2 separate regions of the Homo sapiens genome follow, and region 2 is linked to region 1. The links come from fine-mapping of genetic effects on gene expression. Tissue or cell type: whole blood. Region 1 holds a variant in brackets; the other region holds the start of a gene. All regions are shown on one strand. Distances are from middle to middle.

Evidence for each region. PIP is the estimated chance that this variant, and not a neighbour inherited with it, causes the effect.
Region 2: it holds the start of SNHG5, and the variant in region 1 is fine-mapped to the expression of SNHG5 in whole blood (INTERVAL, PIP above 0.99).

What each region holds. Positions count from the first base shown.
Region 1 is chr6:85,465,434-85,473,744 of GRCh38, forward strand. It overlaps NT5E (5'-nucleotidase ecto), which reads left to right. Exons shown (of 9, transcript NM_002526.4): 2 at 1,627-1,849; 3 at 5,804-5,992. Among named protein-coding and RNA genes, the nearest start is that of NT5E, 20 kb to the left of the region's middle. RefSeq lists an enhancer at 311-400. The variant C/T (reference allele first, on the strand shown) is at 4,970.
Region 2 is chr6:85,674,246-85,682,556 of GRCh38, forward strand. It overlaps SNHG5 (small nucleolar RNA host gene 5), which reads right to left and starts at 4,488. Exons shown (of 6, transcript NR_003038.2): 1 at 4,449-4,488; 2 at 3,891-3,943; 3 at 3,709-3,787; 4 at 3,550-3,630; 5 at 3,179-3,247; 6 at 2,762-2,946. It overlaps SNORD50A (small nucleolar RNA, C/D box 50A), which reads right to left and starts at 3,123; the gene lies at 3,049-3,123. SNORD50B (small nucleolar RNA, C/D box 50B) reads right to left here and starts at 3,414; the gene lies at 3,344-3,414. RefSeq lists enhancers at 4,069-4,128, 4,299-4,458.

The sequences.
Region 1 (8,311 bases):
AAATCATAACATTCTAAGAATAGAAGGAAAAAATAACAATTACCCAAGCCTGCAACAACCTGTAAGACCAGATCAGCTTTTAAGAGGAAAGTTAATTAGATAACAGGAAGAGGTAAAAATGAGATCATCAGAGATGGGGGAAAAGGCAAATTTAGAAATTCTGAATTTAATAGGGGAGACAAGTATGTAGGAATATAAACACATTGTGCTTTCTCTGCACAAACACATTCACATGAGGATGTATACACAACCCTTGCAGGCACAGGTACTCAGTGAATGCCTGCGTGCCAAGGAGGGGGACAGCACTGAGCAGGAGAGGTGGCAGGGCCTGGTGGCCCAGGAGCACTCATATAGTCAGGAGACTGATATAAAAGAAAGATCCTGCTAACATGCCATTACAGAGTATGGAATGAGCAAGGAAGGAAGAGGGTGAGGCTGTAAGAGAGTGCACAGGCCCTCATTTAAATGGACGGGTCACCAGCCAGTACTTCATGCCTGTTCCTAGATGACCCACAAAGTGAAACGAAACTGGATGTGGTATTTAGCAAGTCTGAGATTTGCTGGTTTAAGTACTAAGTTAGCAAACCAGCCTTGGCAGCCAGAGCAGGTAGGGTAGGGGGCCCAAGGAGATGGGTGTATCCAGGAGGCCAATGGAGGAAGGAGAGGAAGGTTTTCTGGGAAGCCAGCTGACATGTCATGCTTTGTCAGTGGGGCCTCTGCATGGATTCCCTCCACTCCCCCCCAGCCCCCAACTCACTACGGGGAGCTGCAAAATGACAGACAATGGGTGGTTTTGTACCCAGCAGCCACTCCTCAACCAGTGAGGAATGGGAGAGAGATAAGAAGGTGGGAAACAAGGATTGCTTGTCACCATCCCTGCTCCTCCTGAAGCCCTGCGCTGGGAGCAGGTACAGAACCCGCTGAAGGTCACCTAATCATTTCACCATGGAGTTCTTCCCCAGATGTGAAACTGCTGGGACTGGAGCAAAGGGTGCCCAGAGCTGACTGGAGGAGGAAGCCAGAGCCACACTGGAACATATGGAGATGCTAGCTCCTGCCTGCTATTGAGGAACTTCATTTTCCCAGAAGAATTAGAGGACCACAGGAGTGCTTGGGAAGAAGCAATTGTGGCAACCTAGGTGAATGATGACCTAGGAGGTGAAATGAGGAAGGAGGCCTTTGGTCTCTGCCAACCATACATTTCAGGTTGCCTTTTGCTAAAGTCCTGCTGATGTTAATCATTCTCTCCAGCAGATCGCGGCTTGAATCATGGGGTCTGAAATGTGGGTTTATGAGAGAAAAACAACATGGAAAAATTGGGCAGAGGCTGGTAAATGTGAACATTCAAACCTGCCCCCAATCTGAGATGGTGGGACAGTGGACCCCTGGCCAGCTCTCCAGGTGTTGCGTATGCACATTGGCAAACCACCTTTATTAGGTGGTGTGACACCTGGGTAGCAATTCTCAAGCAATGTGATGATCTGAATGTCCCTGGGCCTGACCCAGGTGAGGAGGACACAAAATCATGCAATATGTCTCATAGAGCTTAGTCAGTTTTGAGAAATACTGGACTAATGTTATGTTTTTAAAGCACCTAATTCTTTTTCTCTTTTCTGTTTTATCTAGGCACTGGGAAATCATGAATTTGATAATGGTGTGGAAGGACTGATCGAGCCACTCCTCAAAGAGGCCAAATTTCCAATTCTGAGTGCAAACATTAAAGCAAAGGGGCCACTAGCATCTCAAATATCAGGACTTTATTTGCCATATAAAGTTCTTCCTGTTGGTGATGAAGTTGTGGGAATCGTTGGATACACTTCCAAAGAAACCCCTTTTCTCTCAAATCCAGGTATTTTCTACTTTTATAGCACTCAATGCTTGAAAATAGATGCCCTAAATCACAGCTTGGCATTATATTTATGGACTGTAGATAAAAGTAGGAACAACTGGGTAAATAGTGCACTAGAATAACACTGATAAAAGCAATCTGGTAAATTCTATGCTGTTGTTCCAAGGTACTTCTTAAAGAGATGTCCTCTTCTGCTCAGTGAACTTCTTTGTTGACAAAAACAGTATCTTTGTCTAATTCAGTGCTTTCAAAATGGGAAGAGGAGACAATGTATAGCCAGTGCTAAACAGTACAGTTTCATTTACTAGAGAATGAGAGCCTCAAAACTCACTGCCCTTCTCCTGTGGAGCCATGAGCACAGAGCCAGAGTTTTACCTCAATTTACCTTATTGCTCCTTTTCTAGGATGATTATTACATGTCCAGCTAACTCACCTTTCTCGCTTTTCATTATTCATCTCGTTTTAATGACATTCTTGTATCTGACTTTCTGGGAAATATATATAGTGGTCTTATGATATATATGGATATATATAAGTGTATGTATATACATTTATAGACATATATACACATATGTATATATAATATATATAATCTTAAGACACACACATACATATATGACACATATACATACATACATATAAGACACACACACATATATAATCTTAAGACCCTTCAAGAAACTATTTTGAGGCACTTTTATAAGAAAACTTTTTGGAATATTTTGGCAATGAGAACAAAAATGACATTTTCTTTAAATTATCCAAATTAAATGTGTTTCCATATTTGAAGAAAAAAAGGGAAAATAGGAGCCAGGGTTATCTAGAAACATGAGTTTTCATTAAGAACTAACTGATAAAGGACATATAATTGACAATTCAAAAATATATATTTACTGTTGTTGTTGTTATAAAATAAATAAGTCCAGGCCATTGGAAACAACAACAGAAAAGTCAGCTGTGTTTGCTGAGAGCAGCAAGCGGGTCCTGCAGCTGGCATAGAGGCAGAGCTGGAGGCAGGGTGGAGCGGCTGGGGCTGGAGTGGTCAGTGAGAAGAGTGAGAGAACTTGCTAAAGAACCCCCCAACCCCACCCTGGGGTCAGGTTTACTTGCTGAAGAACCTCCTTGGTCCCCTTGAGAGCTGTGTAAAACATCCCTGGGGCACAGGACATTCCAGAAGTGAGGTCAGAGTCACAAGCTAGGATGCAGGCTCCATGAGGACAGAAACCTCTGCTGTCTCACTATTGCCCAATGACTGTGCACAGTGCCTGGCATATGATAAGTCCTCAGGAAGCATTGCTGGGATGAATACATGAGAGCAGGAAGGTATAGGGGCCACAGTCACAGAACAGCAGATAGTTCCATTTCCTGGAGCATGGGTTCTGACTAGGAAAAGCTAGAAAGTTGGATCAGGGCTAGATTGTAGGGCTGAGAAGTTCAGGTGTGATTTGGAGGAAAGCATTGTCTCTTCTTTAAAAGGCACCCATAAGGAGGTAGGAGGTGCAGGTCTTGGTGGAAAGGCACAGCAGCTCCAGAAATCAAACTGCCCCAGCTGGGACTCTGACCAGCCCTTTACCAGGCTGTAACAGAGAGGGGATCAAAAGTGACACTGCTGTTTCCAGCAGCTGCTGGAAGAGAGGGCTGCATTTTGCAGGGCCCAGTGTGGGGGGAAAGGGATGGGGTGGAATAGAATGTTTCCAGGAGCACTGCTTCTTCCAAGACTACAGGCCCAGCGGCCTGGTGTGGGTTCTTCCTACAGTTCTTTGACCCTAATCAAGCCCAGTTCTCCCAGTCCTAGTGGCCTGGGCACCCACAGGGTTATAACCTGTATTTCTAGCACATTTAATCTAATTTATTTTAGCTAGATCATTAAATACCTGAAATACAACTCTCCTCATGACATCTTGAAATATAAGCCATGCTTTGTATATATGGGATGCCTGGTCCTGTGAGGTTTCTGATATAATAGAGGAATACATTCCTTTGTCCTCAGAGGCATTTCTCTGAATTTTTTTTCCTTCTTGGCAGCCATACCTTAAGCAAAAGATGGTAGCATACTCTCGACATTTAGTCATTCCCCTGGGTACCTGTCTGTGTGCCAGGCACTGTTTTAGGCACCAGGGATACTGACCAAAAAAAAAAAAGTTGCCCACTGGAGCTTACATATTCAGTGGGGGAATCAATAAATGAGTAAATGGTTTGGTATGTCAGAAGGTGCTAAGGCTGTGGAGAAGAATTAAGCAGGAGGGGAATGGCAAGTGCAGCAGGGGGGAAGGTATACCTTGTTGTTTCAAAGAGATGCTCAAGGAAAGGCTCACATAGAAGGCAACATAGCACTGAGGGTCAACGGGGAGCCCTGGGCTTCTTGGGGCAACCAACAGGAAGCAGATTGTCCTTGATGTTCTCATAATAGACAACAGTGGCAAAACTACAACTCTTGATTTTTCAACATTGCCTATGAGTTACAGACAGCCTTGCCTGTCCAACACATCTGTGAGCTGCTAATTATTAGGTTGTCATTCTGGGGCCTCCCTGGCTATGATGTCAGCCATGAATTATCTTCCATGGTAATTTGCACTTGTGGAGTTGGCTAATGTTAAGGATTCAGGAGTTCCCCTGCTGAAGCACACAGACATTCCTAAACCTCACAGTGGAACAAGGGATGCATTTCTAATAATCTTGTTACTCTTTGGATTAGTACTTTTCAAACTGGAGTTTGCAGACTCCTGCATTTTGAAAGCTTTTAATGAAATGTCATTCTCCCACCCTCCTTCCCTTGTTTAGTGTTAGTTCTTAGAAATCAGTGTAAGAACGTCTGGATCTACTGGAGGACTCCCTAGTCACAGAGTACCAGACATGACTTCAGGGCAGCATGTCTGTATTTGCAGTCATCTTCATGCCAGTGATAGCCATAAAACCTCAAAGCTTCCTCAAATGTGGCTAACAGAGCCAGTTGGAGGAACCAGTTGCCTTGCTGCACACAGAGAACCTGGGTTGCACAGTGAGAGCCATGCTTGACTACTGATAACAAAAGGCTATCGTTTGTTACCACTATGTGCAGTAATAAGCACCCAGGGAAGAATGTACACAATCCCAGTGCCAGCAACATTTAGATGAGGCCCT[C/T]ATGATTAACACAGAGCTCAATAATGCTCTAATGCTGGCATTATTTATATATTTATATATTTTTTGAGGCAGAGTCTTGCTCTTGTTGCCCAGGCTGGAGTGCAGTGGTATGGTCTCGGCTCATTGCAGCCTCCGCCTGGCAGGTTCAAGACATTCTCCTGCCTCAGCCTTCCAAGTACCTGGCATGTGCCTCCACGCCTGAATAATTTTTGTATTTTTAGTAGAGACAGGGTTTCGCCATTTTGCCTGGGCTGGTCTCAAACTCCTGGCATCAAGTGATCTGCCTGCTGCAGCCTCCCAAAGTACTGAGATTACAAGCGTGAGCCACTGTGCCTGGCCTGCTGGCATTAAAGAGAACATGACAAAGTTATCAACTGCCATATTAAAATAGGCATTCAAGGACTACTTGCTGACAGTTTTAAGTTTGAACACTGATTATCCCAAGTTTCCAACGAACGTCTTGGAGTTGCTAATACTCTTTTGTGTATCATGCTTACGTGCTTAGGCATTTTCTGCATTGGTATTGTGGAAGTTGAGATGTACAAATATATAAAACAATATCTGAAGCCTCCTCACAGTTTGCAACCAAGTTCAAGCAAAACAATATCCACAACCTTAAACTAATACAACATAAAGTGAATGTAATGAGGATATTGATTTGAATTTTTATTTACTTCTTAGGGGTTTTGTATTTAATGAATAAATATGTTTTGGTTTTACTGACTCTTGAGCTTTAGTAAATTAAGGTGTTTAACCTTTGCATGTTAATATGTATATTAAGTAATATAATAAAAATTGTTAATAAATATCCATTTTATTTATTTTGTTCCTTAGGGACAAATTTAGTGTTTGAAGATGAAATCACTGCATTACAACCTGAAGTAGATAAGTTAAAAACTCTAAATGTGAACAAAATTATTGCACTGGGACATTCGGGTTTTGAAATGGATAAACTCATCGCTCAGAAAGTGAGGGGTGTGGACGTCGTGGTGGGAGGACACTCCAACACATTTCTTTACACAGGTAATTGTTTCAAAAGGATTGCATGGGCCAGGATGTCCAGATAAGCACTGTGTCTCTTTTGCCTTTGTAACTGTTATTACTCTTTTTACTGCTATTTAATATGTAATGTATATTATATGATCTATAATATATATGTAATATACATTAAATGGGAACATGTGCAAATCTTACAAACATTACTAAGAATTTATTGATTTCATGATTATAAGTCAATTCCATATATTTATGTATATAATAAATATATAAGACATAAAATATGTATAAAACATATATATACCATACATATGAAAAACAAAAAGACTATTGAGCCCCAACCAAGTCATTTATGATAGATTCTTATCAAAAAGCAACATGTCATATAAAAACTTTAAGCATAAACAAAATAATGTAAATAAGGACCTTTATAACTCAAGGTGGATTTGATTTGTAGGTTGCACAGGTAGCAGAGGCTGGACCTCGAGTGTGAGTCCTAACTCTGCTGCAGACTAGGAATATAAGTATCCTGGAAGCCACATGACCCTGGGTCCTCAGGAGAGCATGCACTCTTCCTACCCACTACCTGACTACCCCCACCACTCTCTTTTTTTCTCTCTCAAATTGGTGTTAAGTAGTTTTCATCAGAATAACTCTTTTATGATTTTTCCACTTTAAACCTATAATGTCCCAAAACTTTTGAATCTGGTTCCACCTTTCCCACTTCCCCCACCTTGCACTGCATAGATCTTTGAAGTATTCCCAAGGAAAGGAAGAAGAGGCTGGTAAACAGTTCTTCTATCAGCATTCGCAAAGAAGGCTTTGGCGTGGGAACAGCCCTCCCCTTGAAGAGGCTCCTGCTTCTACCATCCTTATGTGGGCTGTCAAAGACCATGCTATTTTGATAAAAGCGAAACTCAAAATACCCCAAACAATAAGTAGGAAATACCCAAAAACATTAAAAGGGATTATCACTAAGAAAGTAATTTTTATTTTCTTTCTAGTACTTTGGAGTATTTTCAAATAATGAATGCATGTTACTTTTGCAATCGGAAAGCAAAATATAAATTATAAAAAGGAAAGAAACACAATATTGGGTCAAAAGTCCCCATTCCTAATTCACTTGAATGACTTTGAGCAGGTCACTTAGCACCTCTGAATCTGCTAGCTTAGCTTCAAAATAGGGGATGATCATGCTCAAAGTTCCACGTTACTGTGAAAATTATATGAGATGTAAAAATATGTGAAAGCAGTTTATAAACTATAAATAGCTATATTCTGGTATGCAGCGTCATGGAGGTTGCCTGCTTATAAAAATATGTCAGTCAAAATCATAACTCACAAACTAAAGTTGGCCTTCACTTAAGAAAATACCAGTATGAATGTGTGCTAATTAAATTCCTTCACAGATATTTTACTTCTTGGTAAACACAGGCTAAGGAATAATTTCAAACTGAGTTAAACTGACAGGTTGTGAAATCAATTTATGGGTTATGACCAGTAGTAGGGCTTTTTTTTTTGACAGATAAGACTAAAATAGATTAGGCACTTACATTACTCATAAGAATGATAAATATTGTTCCATGGGAAAAGATGTATATAAGATGTCAAGAACAGCCCCAGGCACATAGCAGACAATCCATAAATGTGATGAGGATGACGACTAGCACTGGACATTGTTAGCATGGATAACATTGCAATCAAAGAGTTTCAACAACTCCATGAGGGTTAAATGAACTAAGAGAGCCAAGACGAGGAAATAATTGGAGCAGGTCACTGGGAAGCACTGGGTAGGGGTGAAGACTCAACAAAGTCCTTCTGACTCTACCACTAATGGTGGGGTCCTTTCAATGCCTGATTACCCTCATCTGTGGAATGAAGGTGATAACAACAGTACCTATTATAAGGGGTCACTGTGATTTAATATGTGTAATGAATGTATAGGTAAATGGCCTTAGCACAGGGCCTAGTATGTTAGCTGTTCTTATTTTAGTTATGTGCTGGCTCACTGGATAAGACCTGTGAAAACCCAAACCTTAGCTTTTCACTGAGGCAGTGTCAGCACCCTTGGACACACAGTGGGAGCTAGATATGTCTCCTCCCCCTTCTTCCTTTAGAATAATGGTTTCAAAAAGTTTAAACTATGACCCGTAGTAAGAAGAACATTTTAGACAGGGAGCCAAAACACACAAACATATATGTGTGTGTGCGTTCACATACGAACATGCAAAAGCACTTGTATGTGCAAACACATACAAGTGAAAGAAAACTTTCACAAAGCACATGGAATGCACCCCAACTTTTCTGTTTTACTGTTTTATTCACTTAATGCCAGCTACCACTCAT
Region 2 (8,311 bases), 210 kb after region 1:
TGAACTGTGGACCTCTATATCTAACTGCCTACTCAAAAATCCCAATTTGAATAACATGTGCTATTTAAACTTAACATGTTCAAAATCAAGCCAACAATAGAATATTTTTGGGAGTGATGGATATAGTCATTATCTTGATTATGTTGATGGTTTCATGAGTATATTCCTATGAAAAACCCATCAAATTGTATACTTTTTAAATGTACACATTTTTGTACATCAGTTATATTCACTACAGGAGGCAAGGACAAAAGTTTCCTGATCTCAGTGAAGTAATGCATATTTGTAAATTATTGCCTTCAAATGATACATTTTTTGCATATTCTGAAGTGCCTTTTCCATTGCTCTTTTGAAGTGAACTATAATAAATGAAGTAACAAGAAAGATAAAGTTCTCAAATAGGTTGGACTGGACTGTACTTGATTTGGGATTCTGATTAAACCCTCATTAACTCTGACAAACTCAGCTATATGGCATGCTGAGACCTCAGCAGTGGAATAGTAGTACCAGGAGGAGACCAGGACTCATGAGAGTAAGACAAGGAGTCTGGTTCTCATACTGAAAATGTATCCTCTTCTGCCCCAAGATGCTCTCTACAAGATGTTACTCTACAGGATGGAGTAAGATCAGAGGCAGTGGCAATATTCAGACAGTTAAGTCATGTATACTAATATATACCTATAACTAAGTACTATAAGTATTGTTTGGATCCAGAACCAAGCTTTTGAAAAGGCAGGAAGGAGGGTCCCACTCCTATTAAAGGACTGGCAAAAGATAAGCAGGTTATTCTAGTAGGCTGATTCAAACAAAGGCTCTAATCCCAACTGGGGAACTGTTAGAAAAACCATGAAAACAGCTGAAAGCTCTTTCATATACACAGGGCAGTGAGGATTGATGTTAGTTCACAGGACACTTGACTGGGGAGCCAAGCACAGTGGATATTGGGTTTCTGGCAATAGAACTAATTTTAGAAAGCACCAAATGGTAGGTTTGAGCTTACTGTATTTTAAGATTACCTGGAAGCCTGGTGTAAGGCAGAGGAAAAATTCCTGTTGGCTGAAGTCACTAAAGTCAGACACGTAAATTATCTTTCAACTTCTGAAACCAATCAGAATCAAGCATATCCCAGTCTATTATAGTCAAGCTCCTTAAGGATTTTTTTTTTTTTTAGCCTGGTCTGTTGCCCAGGATAGAAGACAGAGGTGCAATCATGGCTGATTGTAGCTTCAACCTCCTAGGTTCAAGTGATCCTCCTATCTCAGCCTCCCGAGTAGCTGGAACAAGCGCATGTTACCACACCCAGTTTTACTTATTTATAGAGATGACAACTTGCTGTTTCCAGGCTGGTCTCTTCCTGGGCTCAAGCAGAGTGCTGGGATTACAGGCATGAGTCACTGCACCTGGTCCCAAGCAGCAGCTATGCTCTGGAGGGTAAACTTAGGAAACTGATCTTAACCAATATCGCCTGAGATTTTAGGAGGCTATGACAGACTAACAGCCTCCTGTGTGATTAGAAATTGCCATCAAGGAGTCAGTAATTGAAACTGAACTTTCAAGTTCAATTCCATTCAAATTAAACCTTTTTGGATCTGACTCTCATTACAGGAATAGTCTTACATTTGTAACTTCCTTGCTCAAGAATCTTAAGGGTATTTATAACATCAGTTTTCTGTCCTACACCTATCCACCCTGTTGGTACCCAAATCCTCAATATTTGTCTCAGACTCTGAACCATACTGTCTTTGCTCAGTTATTTCTTAGGCCTATTGTCCCAACATCTGTGCTGGTTTAGACTCAAATCCACTTGTTCTATTTTCAAGAATCCTTCATAGCTTGACTTTTCCTTGGCATCTTGTGCCACTGTTGACAAAACGGTTTTATTTCAGGAGTCTTGGCAGAGCCTAGCACAAGCCAGTGCATATAAATGTGGAGTACTAATTTCGATAGATAATGTGACATATTAAAAAATCTATTGGGAGGCAAGGGAGGTAGAAGGAGCTACAGGAAAAGCGGTCAGAGGGCTCCAAAGCAACCAGTCTATTTCACAACTTTGTCTTGTTTGCCAGCTTTAACAAAACGGTAATGGCACTCTTCCTTGAAAACTGGAATCTCAATAGTCTTTTACCACATACTGTATAACAGTGCCTGGCCCTATTCTAGGCACTCTTGAACTAATGAAACACAGATCTTAAAATTTTATGCAGAAGTTGTGGGAGGGGGAGAAAGACAATGATTAACAGAGTTTTAAGTACGGTAGGTAAGGGCATCAGAGATCAAGGGTATAAACATAAACACAAGCAATGCTTTCAACTGCCATCTTACACACACTACCTTCATAGTGAAGGTACATTTTCTATCTCCAAACGTTACATGCCTAAGGCTTCTCTCTCATTTTATTTGGTAGTATCAGATAGCATTATGTAACCCATCCTGCCAAATGACCTCTTCCTAGATTTTAGCAAGCCTGAATGTCTTTACCAGATTGTTTTATCAGTAACCTTCCCTCATGACCATACTTAATAAACTGCTATTATTATTCTATTGTGCTCCTTATTTTCTGTATCTCATTCCCCCATTTCTCAACTTAAGCATCCAGGCTTTCAAAATTATAGTTACATCAAAACTAAATATTCCATGATTTGCTTAGTAACAATTACTTCTAATTCCTGTCTCTCCACTCTTACACTGATCCAAAAACCCTTACATTGTACCCTGCACAAACCCGAAACATTCACTCACAGTAATTTGATTACAAGGCTGGTTAGTGGATTTTCCATTTAATGCTCCCCATGTTATTTCAGGACCTATTTAAAAGTAATAACAAAAAGGAACATAATCCAAAATTACATGTTTTATTTTCATGTTTGTAAAACGAAGAGCTTTTTTCTGGATGGTTTTCTTATCAGCTTTTCACACAACAGTCAAGTAAACCTCGTGGCACTAGCCCTAGAAAAGGAAAAACACGAGATTCTTACAAGACTACAAACATTACAACATATGTAAAAGCATTAAAAGTATTAAAAAAAAATATTGTCCTTATAACGGTCCATCTCAGAAGCCAGATCCGTAAAAGTTTTTTTTTTTCAACAGAAGTTCAGGTTCGGGATAAGATCATCACAGATAAGACCAAGGACACAATATTCACTGATCTCTAAGCAAACAGAAAAACTCCACTTACAGAAATCGTTGCAACTTTGGAACTTCCAAGACAATCTGGCCTCTATCAATGGGCAGACAGCGACCCTCACTGTTGGCAGAAAAAAAAAAAACCCAGGATTTTATAACACAACTGTTATAAAATCACGGCAACAAAATTTACTCCACCTCTGAATTACTGGTCTTAATCTCAGAAGCCGAATCCGTACTTATTTTTCTTCAGGTTATCAGCTTCGGGATAGGTTTCATCATTGATTAGACCAATCAGACCTTGTATATGTACACATAATACATTAAACTGCACTTCTGTGACACTGACTACAAACCAAGGTAATGCTAAAAGGCAAGTATTATAGTACAAATACTACAGAACTTTTAAGCCATACAACCTACTTCAAAATGAAGCTGCTAGTCAGTCACATTCGACATTCATTATCTTCACTGGCTACTCGTCCACACTCAGAACGCTGTTCACTGACAAAAAAAATTTGATTTAGTCTAGGTGTGGATTAAATGCTATGCTCAATCATAAAGTACTAAAACAACACATACCTGTTAAAAGTGTCAGGTTTTAACCAAGCGATTTTCCATTAAATATTCTCCCAGATGTTCTGGAAGTTTTTTCGTGTATCTAACAAAAAAAAGTAAATTTCAAACGATGCAACAGTTCCTATTCCTGTAAATCAACAGGTTTACTCCTTTAGTTTGGAAACTAAGCTTAACTAAGCTCTTACCTTTGCATCTTCAGAGCTGCTCCACTGTGCCACTGAAGACAGCGCCATTGTTCCTGCGGGAAATCGGTATTTAAGCATTCTCGCAGAAATGTCACACTCCAAGGCGTTTTTCCACACAAAACCCTTCCCCTTCATTAATCCGAATTGCACACAACGCCGCCTTCGAACAGCTCAGTTTCAATACAGGGTCGAGGCTTCCCATTTTAAAACAACGCCGACGGAAGGCCTTCGCCATTTTAGTAAAGGCCCTTTGCTGTTAAAACTAACCCTCCGCCCCAATTAAGGTGGTTTTTCCGCCGCCGCTCAGGCACATGCCGGAGGCCAGCAAGTTCGGCGCCCGTGGCCGATCAGCGGTTCCTCACGCCAAAACTCGGAGCCTGTGGCCGTCACGACTCAACCTCAGTACATGTGGCAGTCCGGCCGCACGTTTCCCACGTGCAAGCTTTCAACTCTCAGCACTCTAAACTCTTCACTAAGATGTCTTCACAGGATTAAAGCTCTTAACTCGGCCTGCGCCACCATCTTTTGCTCGGATACTAGCCCGCAATACCCACTCACCTACCACCCGCCCAGACGCTCGCGAAGGCCGACGTAAAAGACCGAAGTGCGCAGCCAGTAGCTCCTTATATAGCCTCCCGGAGTCAGAACGAGGCCGTCCCGCCCTCTCGCACCTATTGGACATGGAAGTAGACAGGGGTGTGGTCGCGAATTAGCGGGAGCGCGCGCGGTGGCTCTTCTGAGGCCCGTTCCGCGTTGTGGAGCGCGCCGCAGGCCGGCCGCGCGCCCGGCCATTTCCCGGCGCGCGCCCGCAGGCGCACTGCGAAGCGTCTCTTACGAGTCTGGCGGCCGACTTGGCCCTACGTGGCGCGGGTGTGGCGCCAGAATTCAAACAGCTGCAGTTGGAAACGACGCTTTCGCCTGCCACGAGCCAAGTCCGTCCAGGACAGATTGGGTCCGAGAGTGGACACAAGTTTTGCAGCGCAGGGCGGCCTCAGCTTAGGACCGATTCGAGAAGCTGGGCTGGCTGGCTGGCTGGCGCTGGGCTGTAGTGGGCCCCCAGCGGAGGCCGCCGGAGGAGCGGGCGAGCCCTGGCCGCAGCACTCCGGGAAAGGGCAGTTGGCTGGCAGAAACGCTTGGGTGAAAAAGCGGAAAGCGCCACGTGAGAACAGCCCCGGCGTGCGGCCCTGCAGGGCCTCAGGGCGGGCATCAAGGCCCCATGGGGATCCATTCCTCCTCACGCTTCCTCGTGCCAGGCATCCGGTTACACTAAACGTGACCATACAAGTCTCCCTCAAACAGCGAACGTGAGGTTCAATACTCCATTTCGCAGAGGAGAAAACTGAGGCTTAAAACAGCCAGGTAATTTGCCTAAGGTCACACAGCTGAAATGCTTTGCTAATTTTTAACTTCTTTGTACTCAATTAGTTATATTGAAAACGAGAGAAAGATTAATTTGAGAAGTATCCCTGAATACTTTATCCAGACGACAAACACAAAATTCAAAAGCAGTGCTTTGATTAATTAGCATGTTCGAGTGAATATGTCTGCGTGTGTGTGTGTGCACACGACATTTGAACATTTCAGTATTTGAAAATTCAGGTCGTTCTTCACTTCTATATTTCAAAGCACTACTTATTAAAGTTGTTTATGTGTGCATTTGATTACGGTCCGATTCTGCTAGAGTGTGGGAGCAACACATCTGATTTCGTGCTCTGCTGTTTATTTTTTCTTAGAACAGTGCCTAGCATTAAGTAGGTTGTCGGTAATGGTTAAATGAATGAATGAATGAACAAATACATTCGGTGGCTTTTTAGAAAATTAGAATGAAGATCAAACTTCACATTCAAAGATAGTAGTGAAAAGCACTTTTCTCTAACAGGAACCTATATGATGAAGTATTGACTGGGCCGGGCATTTTGTCGGTTTTTGTATTACTTTGTAATGTCTTACATAAATTTGCATATTGCTCATAGTAAATAGTAAAACAAACAATACAGTACAAAAGGATATAAGAAGCAAAGTAGGCCGGGTGTGGTGGCTTATGTCTGTAATTAGAGCACTTTTGGAGGCTGAGGTGGGAGGATTGAGCCCAAGACCCTGTCTCTATTGTATTAAAAAAATTTTTAAAAAGAGTTAACAAAAAAAGCAAAGTGAAAGTATCTTTCCACATGCCTGGGAATCTTCTCCCTAGTTGTACTCTTCAGCAATACCACTGTTAACAGTTTTTGAGACTTCCTATGCAAATGCAAATATATGTACTTCGTTTTTCACATACAAATGGGATCTATATGTTCTGCAACTTGTTTGTCCGTCTTGTAAATATCATAAACATCTTTCCATATCAGTACATATAGATGACTTTTTTTTTCCAGACAAGGTCTCACTTTGTGACCCAGGCTGGAGTGCAGTGGCTCTATCTCTGTTCACTGCAATCTCGGGATCAAGTGATCCTTCTGCCTCAGCCCACCAACCATGTGGGACTACAAGCACGCGCCATCACGCCCTGTAATTTTTCTGTATTTTTCGTAGAGATAGAGTTTCTGCCATTCTGAAGACCACAAACATCACCTGGTCAAAAGCCATATAAAACAGTGATTCCTTACCCTGACTTACCAGTTAAAATCTGGTAAGTTAAAAAATATCAAATTTCTGGGCCCGAACCTGGAACCTTGAAAGCATAATGTTCAAAAGTGGGACCCAAAAATCCACATTTTAAACAAGCATTAGAGGCAATACTGTCCAATTGGAATATAATATGAACCACAAATGCAAGCTACACACGTAATTAAAAATGTACTAGTAGCCATATATATATATATATATATTTTTTTTTTTTTTTTTTTTTTTGAGAGTCTCACTCTGTCACCCAGGCTGGAGTGCAGTGGCTCGATTTCGGTTCACTGCAAGCTCTGCCTCCCGGGTTCACGCCATTCTCCTGCCTCAGCCTCCTGAGTAACTGGGACTACAGGCGCCCGCCACCACGCCCGGCTAATTTTTTTTTTTTGCATTTTTAGTAGAGTCGGGGTTTCACCATGTTAACCAGGATGGTCTCGATATCCTGACCTCGTAGTCCGCCCGCCTCGGCCTCCCAAAGTGTTGAGATTACAGGCGTGAACCACCACGCCAGGCCACACATTTTTAAAATGTAAAAAGGATCAGATGGGCCGGGCGTGGTGGTTCATGCCTGTAAGCCCAGCACTTTGGGAAGCCAAAACGGGTGGATTGCTTGAGCTCAGGAATTTGGGACCAGCCTGGGCAACATGGCAAAACTCTGTCTCTACAAAAAAAAAAATCAAAAATAAAAAATTAGCCGGGTGTGGTGGCTGAGGTGAGAACATAGCTTGAGCCCAGGAGGCAGAGGTTGCAGTGAGCTTGTGCACTGAGATTGTGCCTCTGCCTTCCAGCCTTGGTAACAGAGCCAGACCCTGTCTCAAAAAAAAAAAAAAAAGAAAAAAGGAAAGAAAAATGAAATTAGTTCTAATCTATTTTATTTAACCCAAATATAATCAAAGTTTTTTATTTTGACATAGAAACAATGTAAAAATCATTGAAATATTTTCCATTTGTTTTTTGTATGCAGTAAATGAAATCAGGTGTGTATTTTTTACTTACATCTCAATTTGGTCTGTACATTTATTACTTTTTAACTTTTAGGTTCGCGGACACATGCACAGGTTTGCTATATATAGGTAAACTCGTATCACAGGGATTTTTTTATACAGATTATTTTGTCACCCACGTATTATGCCTAGTACCCAGTAGTTATTTTTTCTGCTCCCTTCCATCCTCCAACCCTCCACCCTCAAGGAGGCCCTAGTGTCTGTAGTTCCCTTTTTTGTATTCATGAGTTCCCATCATTTAGCTCCCACTTATAAGTGAGAACACGCAGTATTTGGTTTTCTATTCCTGGATTAGTTTGCTAAGGATGATGGCTGCAGGTCCATCCATGTTCCTGCAAAAGACATGATCTCATTCTTTTTTATGGCTGTATAGTATTCCATGGTATATATGTACCACATTTTCTTTATTCAATCTGTCATTGATGGGCATTTAGGTTGATTTCATATCTTTGCTATTGTGGATAGTGCTGCAATGAACATTTACGTGCATGCGTGGTCTGTACTTTTCAAGTGCTCAGTTGTCACATGTGGCTGGCCGCTGCATTGGACAGCACACGTGTAGGGTGATTCATATAGATGTTTGAGAACCACAGTCTTAGGGTAAGAGAGGTACTACATATGTGATATACAGTCCAATCCTTTTTTAAAAAAAACCTTCCATGTTATTATTATTCTTTTTTATACGGACAGGGTCTTGCTCACTCAGGCTGGAGTGTAGTAGTGTGATCACAGCTCACTGCAGCCTGGAACTCCTTAGCTCAAGTGATCCTTCTGCCTCAGCCTCCCAAGTAGCTGGGACTA